Regions from separate parts of the Homo sapiens genome. Here region 2 is linked to region 1. Evidence: fine-mapped expression QTL. A gene starts in region 1. The other region holds a variant in brackets. All regions are shown on one strand. Distances are from middle to middle.

The links. PIP is the estimated chance that this variant, and not a neighbour inherited with it, causes the effect. A credible set is the group of variants that fine-mapping cannot tell apart.
Region 2: its variant is the best candidate, but not a certain one, in a credible set for the expression of METTL16 in subcutaneous fat (GTEx, PIP 0.79).

What each region holds. Positions count from the first base shown.
Region 1 is chr17:2,508,941-2,514,318 of GRCh38, reverse strand. METTL16 (methyltransferase 16, RNA N6-adenosine) reads left to right here and starts at 2,431. Exons shown (of 10, transcript NM_024086.4): 1 at 2,431-2,560. RefSeq lists enhancers at 2,231-2,280, 2,351-2,560.
Region 2 is chr17:2,422,532-2,427,909 of GRCh38, reverse strand. All of the region lies in intron 8 of METTL16 (methyltransferase 16, RNA N6-adenosine), which reads left to right. Among named protein-coding and RNA genes, the nearest start is that of MNT, 24 kb to the right of the region's middle. The variant C/A (reference allele first, on the strand shown) is at 2,836.

The DNA.
Region 1 (5,378 bases):
GTGCACCTATCACAAAGAACAATAAAGAGCTATATTGTTGGAAGTGGAAGAATCTCCAAGAGTTATATTTGAGTATATGTGCATGTGTGTGTGTGTATATATATGTAATTACATATATATACAAATATATATTATTATTTGTATAAAAATTATTTGGTTATATATCCTTATGAGATATAGAGGTTTAGTAGTAAGGTTACCCAAATTTGATGGTGCTTGGCTGTGAGTGGTGAGATTTTAGATAATTTTTGTCTTTCTGATATCTTTATGTATTATTTAAATTATTTAAAAATTTTCAGTTATTAAAATGTTTTATCTTTATGGAATACTTAAAAAAAACTGACCAGAGAAGTTATAAGGAACAATATTATTATTATTAGGAACTCACTATATACTAGACATTCTGCTGTTTTATATGCATTATCTGATTTAATTCTCACAACCCCATGAGATTATTATCCTATTTTGTAATATTGAGCAAACTAAGCCTTCAAGTGTTTAAGCAAATTGCCCATACTCACAGGGTTAGTAAATGGTGGGGGCAGGATTAAAGGCCAGGTTTCCCAGCTGCAGTGCTACTAGGGTCTCTCTGGCCCGACCTACAGGTAAACTGGGTTGCTCTTTGGAGCTAACAGAAAGTTACCAATATCTTAAATACAATCACTTCAACCCCACCAGTCCTATCTCCGAGGCCATCTTTTCTTTTACCTTTCCAGCAGCATGCACTAAATAAAATGCCATAACTAGTATCAAAGCCACTACCAACCAAAGATGGAAAACTTTCTGTGGTAATATGTTACATTGGTTGCTGAAATGAACCATGCCTTCCAGTATTGGAAGGGACCCTGGCATAGTCCCCTCCCCTTGAATTGGGGCTAGCCCTTCTACTTGCTTTAACCAAGAATATAGCCAAGGTGCTAGTTCTGCACCTACGCTTTAAGAAGGCCTGGCAGCTTCCACTTTTGCCCTTTTGGGAGCCCCGAGCCAACATGTAAGAAGTATTCTGGCGGGGCACGATGGCTCATGCCTGTAATCTCAGTACTTTGGGAGGCCGAGGCGGGTGGATCATCTGAGGTCAGGAGTTTGAGACCAGCCTGGCCAACAGGATGAAACCCCGTCTCTACTAAAAATACAAAAAATTAGCTGGGCATGGTGGCGGGCGCCTGTAATCTCAGCTACTCAGCTACTTGGGAGGCTGAGGCAAGAAAATCGCTTGAACCCAGGAGGCAGAGGTTGCATGCAGTGAGCCGAGATGGCGCCATTGCACTCCAGCCTGGGCAATAAGAAACTCCATCTCGGGGGAAAAAAAAAATGTCATCCTACTCTGCTAGACAAATTACATGGAAAGGCCACGTGGACAGGGAGAGAACTTGGACTACAGGGAGAGAGACCCAGTTCTTTCAGCGGAACCAGCCCCCACTTGTTGCTATGACCACTGGCAAGACCAGCAGAACGGGTGGGCTAATCCCAGCCCAGATTGCAGAACTGTGAGCAAGTAAAATGGTGGTTGTTTTAAGTCTTACGTTTTGGGGCGGTTTGTTACACAACAGATTATGAAAACACCTCCTCAGCTTTCCTTGGGTGACTACTGGTACTCACTTGTGTATAAGTCTCCATTCCTTAATCCTTACTATCTCCCAATTTTATGGTAATAGTTTGCCAGAAGCGTTCACATTAACGACGAGGACGTAGGCAGGCCCCCCCTTTTTTTTTTTTTTTTGAGACAGAGTCTTGCTCTTTCGCTCAGGCTGGAGTGCAGTGGTGCGATCTTGGCTCACTGCAACCTCCGCTTCCCGGATTCAAGCGATTCTCCTGCCTCAGCCTCCCGAGTAGCTGGGATTACAGGCGCCCGCCACCACGCCCGGCTAATTTTTGTATTTTTAGTAGAGACGGGGTTTCACCATGTTGTCCAGGCTGGTCTTGAACTCCTGACCTCAGGTGATCTGCCCGCCTCAGCCTCCCAAAGTGCTGGGATTACAAGCGTGAGCCGCCGCGTCCGGCCGGATCCTCAGTTCTTTCGCTGTAAACGAGAGTACTCTTCCCCAACCCACAGGCTTATATCTCTTACAATTCAGTGAGTGAGACATCGGCTGAGGACACACCTGTTGCACAAAAAGGGCTCACTGCACGCCATCACACCCAAGTCTCGTACCCTCATCTTCATAACCTGCCCAATCCCAGTGAGTGTGAGAGGTAAGTCTGCAGCAGGGCCCGGAAAACTTGTTTCTTTTTCTTTTAAATAAGTTTTCTCGCGAATTCGAACGCATGTCCTCCTCCTGCCATACCTCAAAGGACTCCGCTCGTCACCACGCCCCCGCGCCTTCTGTTAGGAGCAGCAAACCCCAGGTGTCGCGAGGGTTTCTTCTTTCTTCAAGATCAGCCACAGGTCGCGCGAGAGGGATGTGTCCAATCACGAGGCTAGATGGCTTCACAAGATGGCGGCGCGCTGGGAGCGTATCATCTGCGTTTCTAGGAGCTTCGCTATGCGGCTGCTTTAAGATTCTAGGGTTGTACAGGCCCACGCCAGACACGACGTCTGGCAGGAACCTCGGCCTCAGAGGTGGGTCACTTATATCTCTCACGCAGATTTACTATCATGGGTCACTTAACCCGTGGATCACACGGGTTCCTCATTCTTGAGTTTTGGGCTAGTGAGGTGCCGACTTCGGGGTCTAGGAGGGGAGACCTGATGTGGCTGTGTGTGCGCACGCGGGGGTGTTGAGAGTGGATGAGTGGGAGGAGTTGGCGAATAGAATAGAGACTAGGACTGAAGTAGGAAAGACTCCCCGGTGTTTAGGAGGTTTAGAGAGATCCAAAACTGAGGCGGGAAGACAAACTGAGCTGATAAAATGAGGGCATGGAAAGAACGGCAGTGGCAGGACTAGTGGGAAACGTCGGATTTATGAGAGAAGGCGAAGAGAGAAGATGTAGATTGGTGTGGAAGTGGGAGGGATCTGTGCAGAAAGAATTTGAAGTTCTGAAATTGGAATTTAGACTGTTTTACAGGCTGTGTATCAAGAGAGTGGTAGTTGAAGAGGGTTAATGGTCAAGAGGAACCAAGGAAACAGAAGCATGGAGATGAGAAAGAAAAAAAAAAAAAGGGAAAGCCTCATTCTCAGGGTTCTACTATTAACTGTGGCTTTCTGGACTGACTCAAGTAACCGGGAAGAAAAGTTCCAGTCCATGGGCTGAGCTTTTTTTGAAACTCAGTGAGGGTGCTTTGTGTCGGTGGTCCAGACAGGGAAGAGTTCTATCGTGGTTTCAATCAACAAATACTTGAGTGCCTACTCTCTTAGGCCCTATTTTAGGCGTTGGGATATGCGGTGAACAAGACAGACAAAATATTTACCCTCTTGAAACTTACTGACGGGAGATTTTTTAAAGTAAGTAAAATATATGGAATGCCAGATGGGTAAATTCTGTGTAGAAAATTGAAGCTAGAGCCTGGGTAGCAAAGCCAGACTCCCTTTCTACAAAAAATGAAGTAAATTAACCAGGTGCAGTGCTCTGTACCTGTAGTCCCAGCTGCTTGGGAGGCTCAGGCGGGAGGATTGCTTGATCTCAGGAGTTGGAGGCTGCAGGGAGCTATGATTCCATCATTGCACTCTGGGCAACAGAATGGAAGACCTTGTCTCAACAAGAAGAAAAAAAAAAGAATTGATGCCCAGTTAAACTCTGAAGAATAGGTTATATTTAGCTAAGAACTCATTGCCTATATTGGGAGGTTAGTTAGAAAAGAAGTGGTTGTATTTACTCATTCTGTATCTGTTCTGACCAGAAAAGTTGAATAATGTAGGAAATGAATCGAATCTGCCATGTCTGTAATTTAATTTGTTTCACATATATTCAGAGTATTATGTTGTGTGTGCACTGATGTCAGCTATGTAGTCTGTAGAATTTTCCTTAATGTGTGGCAGAGCCCTAACATGCCACTGTCTCTTGAAGTCACTGTTAGGATATGGTGACTAAAGTCAGCAACAATGTATATTTCAAAATAGCTAGGAGAGGGCTTGAAATGTTACCAATACATAGATATAAAAAATACTCAAAGTGGTGAATACCCCATATACTCTGACTTGATCAGCACACATTCTATGCGTGGAACAAATACCGCATAAATGTCACATGTCCCCCATAAATTGGGAAAATATTTTCCATCAGTTTAAAGAAATTACTCTTAGTTTACTTTTTTTTGTTGCTTGCCAGAATCACAAGAAAGAACATTTTCTTTTTCTTTTTTTTTTTTGAGACAGTTTCACTGTCACCAAGGCTGGAGTGCAGTAGCACGATCTTGGCTCACTGCAACCTCCACCTCCTGGGTTCAAGTGATTCTCCTGCCTCAGCCTCCCGAGTAGCTGGGATTACAGGCACCCACCACCACGCCCAGCTAATTTTTTTTTTTTTTTTGAGACGGAGTGTTGCTCTGTCACCAGGCTGGAGTGCAGTGGCGTGATCTTGGCTCACTGCAACTTCGGCCTCCTGAATTCAAGTGATTCTCCTGCCTCAGCCTCCCAAGTAGCTGGGACTTCAGGCACATGCCACCACACCCAGCTAATTTTTGTATTTTTAGTAGAGATAGGGTTTCACTATGTTGGCCAGGATGGTCTCCATGTTGGCCAGGCTGGTCTCACAAACTCCTGACCTCAGGTGATCCTCCAGTCTTGGCCTCCGAAAGTGTTGGGATTATAGTCGTGAGCGACTGTGCCCGGCCAACACTTTAATTTTGGATATTTTCTTTTTAATAAAGTCTATTATTTGTATTTGTTTATTTTGAGACAGGGTCTCACTGTGTGGCCCAGGCTGGACTGGAACTCCTGGGCTCAAGCTATCCTTGGCATCCCTAGTAGCTAGGAACACAGGCATGCACCACCTTGCCCAGTTGATGTTTTCTTGAGAACTGGGGGCCATCCTAGTTTTATGCTCCCCTCTTTCCTGATGGTCAGTAAAGGGTATGTCAATGCTAGGAAATTAAGACAGGTATATAGTCATTTTTAGTCATAGTGTGAGGGGCAAAATGTAGTAACAGTATGCTGAAAAACTTTCAGGTGACTACTAATCCCCTCAAATTCTGAATTGTTTACTCAAAAAATATTTATTGTATACAGGTTGCTGGGGGTATAGTAAAGACTAGGATGGATATGGTTGCAGGTCTATGTGTGACATATGCAAATTAATTACACACCCAGTAGTAAACTGAAGATCTCTGAGGGAGAAGCAGCACAGGGTGCTTTGAAAGCGTGTAGATGGGCATCTGATTGGATTGTGGGGTCAGAGAAAGGCTGCCTGAGTAAATGATGCCTAGGGTGTGATTTGAGTAGCTAGTGGACCTTCAGAGGTGAAAGGCGATGGTGGGAGGTTGAGGAGAGTCTTACAGGCAG
Region 2 (5,378 bases), 86 kb after region 1:
ACTCTTGGGCTCAAGTGATCCTCCTGCCTCGACCTCCCCAAGTGCTGGGATTGCAGGTGTGAGCCACTGTACCCAGCATATACTTGCTGATACTTTATTCAGCTTCACATCTGTGGGTTTTTACTTAATTTCATCAGTTGTCCATCTGTATCTCCCATTCAAAAATCCTGTGACTGCGGTGGTGCACGCCTGTAATCCTAGCTACTCAGGAGGCTGAGGCGGGGGGATCACTTGAGCTCAGGTGTTTGAGGCCAGCCTGGGCAACACAGAAGACCCTATCTCTTAAAAAAATAAAAGAATCCCATGCCAAAAACTCCAGTCCTCAGCCAACATATTACTCATTAACTTTATCTCACAATATGCCCCAGGAGTCTCAAAAGTAACATTACCATCAACAAAGTGATTTCTGAAAATAGCTACTTTTTTACTTTTACAATTCTTTTTTGTCCTTGGAGACTCTCATGATGGATTTCAAAGTCATTTGGAACGTTTCCACTCTGAATTTTCTGCATGGAGTCAGGACAGAGGTTCGTTTGTTTCATCATCTTCAGATTTTTAGGGAGTGCCTTTTTTGTTGTTAGTTTTGTTTTGTAATAAAATATATTTCTTATTTCTCTACCTGTGAAATGAAAAAAATCTCAAAAGAATGGTCAGAAGTCTGACTTCTTTCTTCTATCTCATTCACCCTAATCCTTTACTTCTTCATGGGTTACTATTTAAACAGTTTTATAATTTATCATTCCTTTATTTGTATTTATATTTTTGAGCCAGGGTCTTGCTCCGTTGCCCAGGCTGGAGTGCTGTGGCACGATGTCGGCTCACTGCAGGCCCTGCCTCCTGGGTTCAAGCTATTATTCTCCTGCCTCAGTCTTCCGAGCAGCTGGGATTACAGGTGTATGCCTCCATGCCCGGCTCTTTTTTTTTTTTTCGTATTTTTAGTAGAGATGGGGTTTCACCATGTTGGCCAGGCTGGTCTGGAACTACTGACCTCAAGTGATCTGCCTGCCTTGGCCTCCAAAAGTGCTGGGATTGCAGGCATGAGCCACCGTGCCTGACCCATTTTTTCAAATTCAAAGAAATACACGTATGTATTTATAATCATTCCTTCTTAAATAGGTAGCATTCTGCAATAGTTTTCTTCCCCTTGCTATTTTTACTTTTTTTTTTTTTTTTTTTTTTTTGAGACGGAGTCTTGCTCTGTCACCCAGGTTGGAGTCCAGTGGCGTGATCTCGGCTCACTGCAACCTCCGACTCCCTGGTTCGAGCAATTCTCCTGCCTCAGCCTGCCGAGTAGCTGGGATTATAGACACGTGCCACCATGCCCAACTAATTTTTATATTTTTAGTAGAGATGGGGTTTCACCATGTTGGCCAGGCTAGTCTTGATCTCCTGACCTTGTGATCTACCTGCCTCAGCCTCCCAAAGTGCTGGGATTACAGGCGTGAGCCATGGCACCCGGCTGCTATTTTTACTTTTTACTGTTTTTACGTACTCCTGGGGGTGATTTCAGGACATTTTAAACAACGACCTGTCAGATTAAGATGAAAGAAATGGGCTGGGTGTGGTGATGTGCACCTGTAGTTGCAGCTACTTGGGAGGCTGAAGTGAGAGAATCACCTGCGCACAGGAGTTCAAGGCCAGCCTGGGCAACATTGTAACTCCCTATCTCTTTTAAAAAACAGACGGCCACTGCACTGGGGTCTCCTCTCTGCCCTGTCCCCTTTCCACTTGAGGTTTTTCTAGAAGCTGCTTTGCCAAAACAAAGAGGTTGTGGCTTCGTGCGCACCAGATTTCTCTGTAGAATGGCTCTTCTCTTCCTGCAAATACTAGAGAGAATTTAATGATTTCATTCAGCCTGTGGCTTTTTTTTTTTTTTTTTGCCTTAGCCATAATTAACGGAGACATAACATGCTACACTGATCTGTGTCAAGCTACACCACATGTGAAAGTTTCTTGGCTGATGGCATCATTGAGATTTAGAAATTAAAGTGAAGATTCAAATTTGTACCAGTCTGGGCGACATGGCAGAACCCCATCTCTACAAAAAATACAAAAATTAGCTAGGCATGGTGGCACACACCTATAGTCCCTGCTACTCAGAAGACTGAGGTGGGAGGATCACTTGAGCCTAGGAGGTGGAGGCTGCACTGAGCCGTAATTGCGCCACTGCACTCCAGCCTGGGTGCCAGAGCATGACCCTGTCTCAAAAAAAAAAAGACAAGAAAAGAAATTTGTAGACCACCCTGCTACGTAGCATATTTTAAAATTTAAGAACTGGTTTTTTGTTTGTTTGTTTGTTTGTGCCTGATTGATGGCTTCTGTGATCTAATGTGTTTTTAACGCTTGCAGTTCCTCTCTTATTGATGATCATTCCTTGACTACTTGGAATTCAAAAGATATAAAACCTGTGGTCTCTGCAGACCTACGACTGCTCACCAGGCTTCTCTCACATTGTAATTCCAGCAGTGCATCTTCAAATCCAAAATCAGCTGTAAATTCACCTAGTTCTTTGCATTAAACTGGATTAATCATTGTAAATGATTGGTTTTGGGGTAGACTTTAAAATGTTGAATTATTTATGTACGCCTTGCCTGCTAAACTAGATTATGACAGTTTGAGTGTAGCACTCTTCATTTAAAATATTTGTGTTTTGCAATTATAAGGATATTAGCAAAATAAGATCATTTCAATTGGGGAAAAACTGACAGCTTCTATGTACTAGTGTTTGCAGCAAAATGTAAAAATTGCCTACGACCAGAGAGCTGTGGTGTTGAATTTAACTATTAATTTCTTAGAACTTGATCCTATATTTTACTGTGACCCTGCCCACGAGGA[C/A]TTTTCATGATAAATAAGAGGGGACTGAACAACTGCTGTGAGCCATACTTCAGTTAATCTTTCATCATTTAAAAGCCTTGCCTGAGAACTCCTGGAGTATGAATTATCTGTCTTTTTTTTTTTTTTTGAGACGGAGTCTCGCTCTGTCACCGAGGCTGGAGTGCAGTGGCGCGATCTCTGCTCGCTGCAAGGTCCGCCTCCCGGGTTCACGCCATTCTCCCACCTCAGCCTCCCAAGTAGCTGGGACTACAGGCGTGTGCCGCCACGCCTGGCTAATTTTTTGTATTTTTAGTAGAGATGGGATTTCACCATATTGTCCAGGATGGTCTCAATCTCCCGACCTTGTGATCCACCCACCTCAGCCTCCCAAAATGCTGGGATTACAGGCGTGAGCCACTGCGCCTGGCCTGTCTGTCTCTTAATGTCTAGTTTCTATAGTAGAGCAAAGCCAAATTGAAGACCGTCCTGAGATGATGTGTGTGCATGTGTGTGCTAGAGCAGTTCATTAGAAATCTTCCGAATGCAGCTGGCGCAGTGGCTCAGGCCTGGAGTCCGAACACTTTGGGAGGCTGAGGCAGATGGAGAGCTTCAGCCTATGAGTTCCAGACCAGCCTGGGCAATCAATATAGCAAGACCCTTCTCTATTTAAAAAATAAAAATAAGGCCGGGCGCGGTGGCTCACGCCTGTAATCCCAGCACTTTGGGAGGCCGAGGCGGGCGGATCACGAGGTCAGGAGATCGAGACCATCCCGGCTAAAACGGTGAAACCCCGTCTCTACTAAAAATACAAAAAATTAGCCGGGCGTAGTGGCGGGCGCCTGTAGTCCCAGCTACTTGGGAGGCTGAGGCAGGAGAATGGCGTGAACCCGGGAGGCGGAGCTTGCAGTGAGCCGAGATCCCGCCACTGCACTCCAGCCTGGGCGACAGAGCGAGACTCCGTCTCAAAAAAAAAAATAAAATAATAAAATAAAATAAAATAAAATAAAAGGAAAATTTTTTAAAAAATCTTCAGGAATATCAAGTTTGTTGACTGACCATTGTATATGGGAAAGTTGGGTCAGGATGCAGGTGAAGGAGCCATATTTGAGAGAGGGAAGTTTTCATTTTAGTCCTGAGATAACTGGGTAATAAGTTGTCGATTTTGTGATTTCTGACTTCCTCAGAACTCTGAAAGTATCCCTGATAGAGTTCTTGTCAGGTTGGTAAAGATGTATTTTCTTATTTTAATCTCTAGAAATGATGAAGCCCGTCCTTACTTTTGGAGAAAGAGTGTCGCAGGTCAGCTTTAGCATAATGAGAAACAGCAATATCCTGACTTTACTGGTCAGAATTTGTGAGCAAAATGATCACTCCTTCTGTGAGAAGAGATGGGAAGTGCTGCCCTTTTAGCCATGCTTGTAGGTGACCTTTGCTGTACAGGGCGGGCTGGCAGGGAGGGCCAGGTTGCAGTGAGCTCTCCATGGTCATGGCCTTTGATGTTGGGACGGGGAATGGGGAGTCTGATTCTCCACCCCCATCATCCTCCCACACACCGGCTTAATACGCTTCTTCCCCAGCTTAATACGCTTATTGTAAGCTCCTTACTGCAAAGCGTTAGGCTCTCAGTAGACTAGAAATTATGTTTCTCATGCAGGATGATTGAGTAATAACAATATGACTGTCTTAATGTCAATATGAATTTGTCTCATCTTGTCTGAAACATAATTGAACAAGTTCAGGTTCAGACAGGTCTTAGAGTCCACTATTCATTTCTCAAGAGCAGGTTCTTCAAACACACACACACACACACACACACACACACACACACACACACCCTTTGTTTTTTATCCTTCCCTAACAGTTTCCTAGTATAGAATAAACTGGTTAGGTTGTTGTGTATGTATGCAGTGTGAGGCCGCTGGTTAGTTCTTATTAGAAGACGTCCCCCAGTAATCAGAACCTGTGGTGTCTGCATGTGTGCGTGTGCGCTGTCAGTGTGGCCAGGTACGACTGGAATGATCAGTAGCAGTCGTCAGATTCCTTTTAGCAGAAAAAGATCTTCAAACCTGACTTGGTGTTTTTTCTTTTTTATCCTTTTTGTTGTTGTTGTTTTTGAGACACAGTCTCCTTCTGTCTCCAGGCTGGAGTGCAGTGGCGCAATCTCATCTCACTGCAACCTGCACCTCCTGGGTTCAAGTGATTCTCCTGCCTCAGCCTCCCGAGTAGCTGGAATTACAGGCGCGGCCACCACACCCGGCTAATTTTTGTATTTTTACTAGAGATGGGGTTTCACCATGTTGGCCAGGCTGGTCTCAAACTCCTGAGCTCAATCCATCCGGCCGCCTCGGCCTCCGAAAGTGCTGGGATTACAGGCATAAGCCACCACACCCAGCCTAAAGTTTCTACTTTAAAGAAAGAAATTCTCAGGCTGGACACGGTGGCTCACACTTGTAATCCCAGCACTTTGAGAGGCCGAGGTGGGTGGATCACGAGGTCAAGAGATCGAGACCATCCTGGCCAACATGGTGAAACCCCGTCTCTACTAAAAATACAAAAATTGGCTG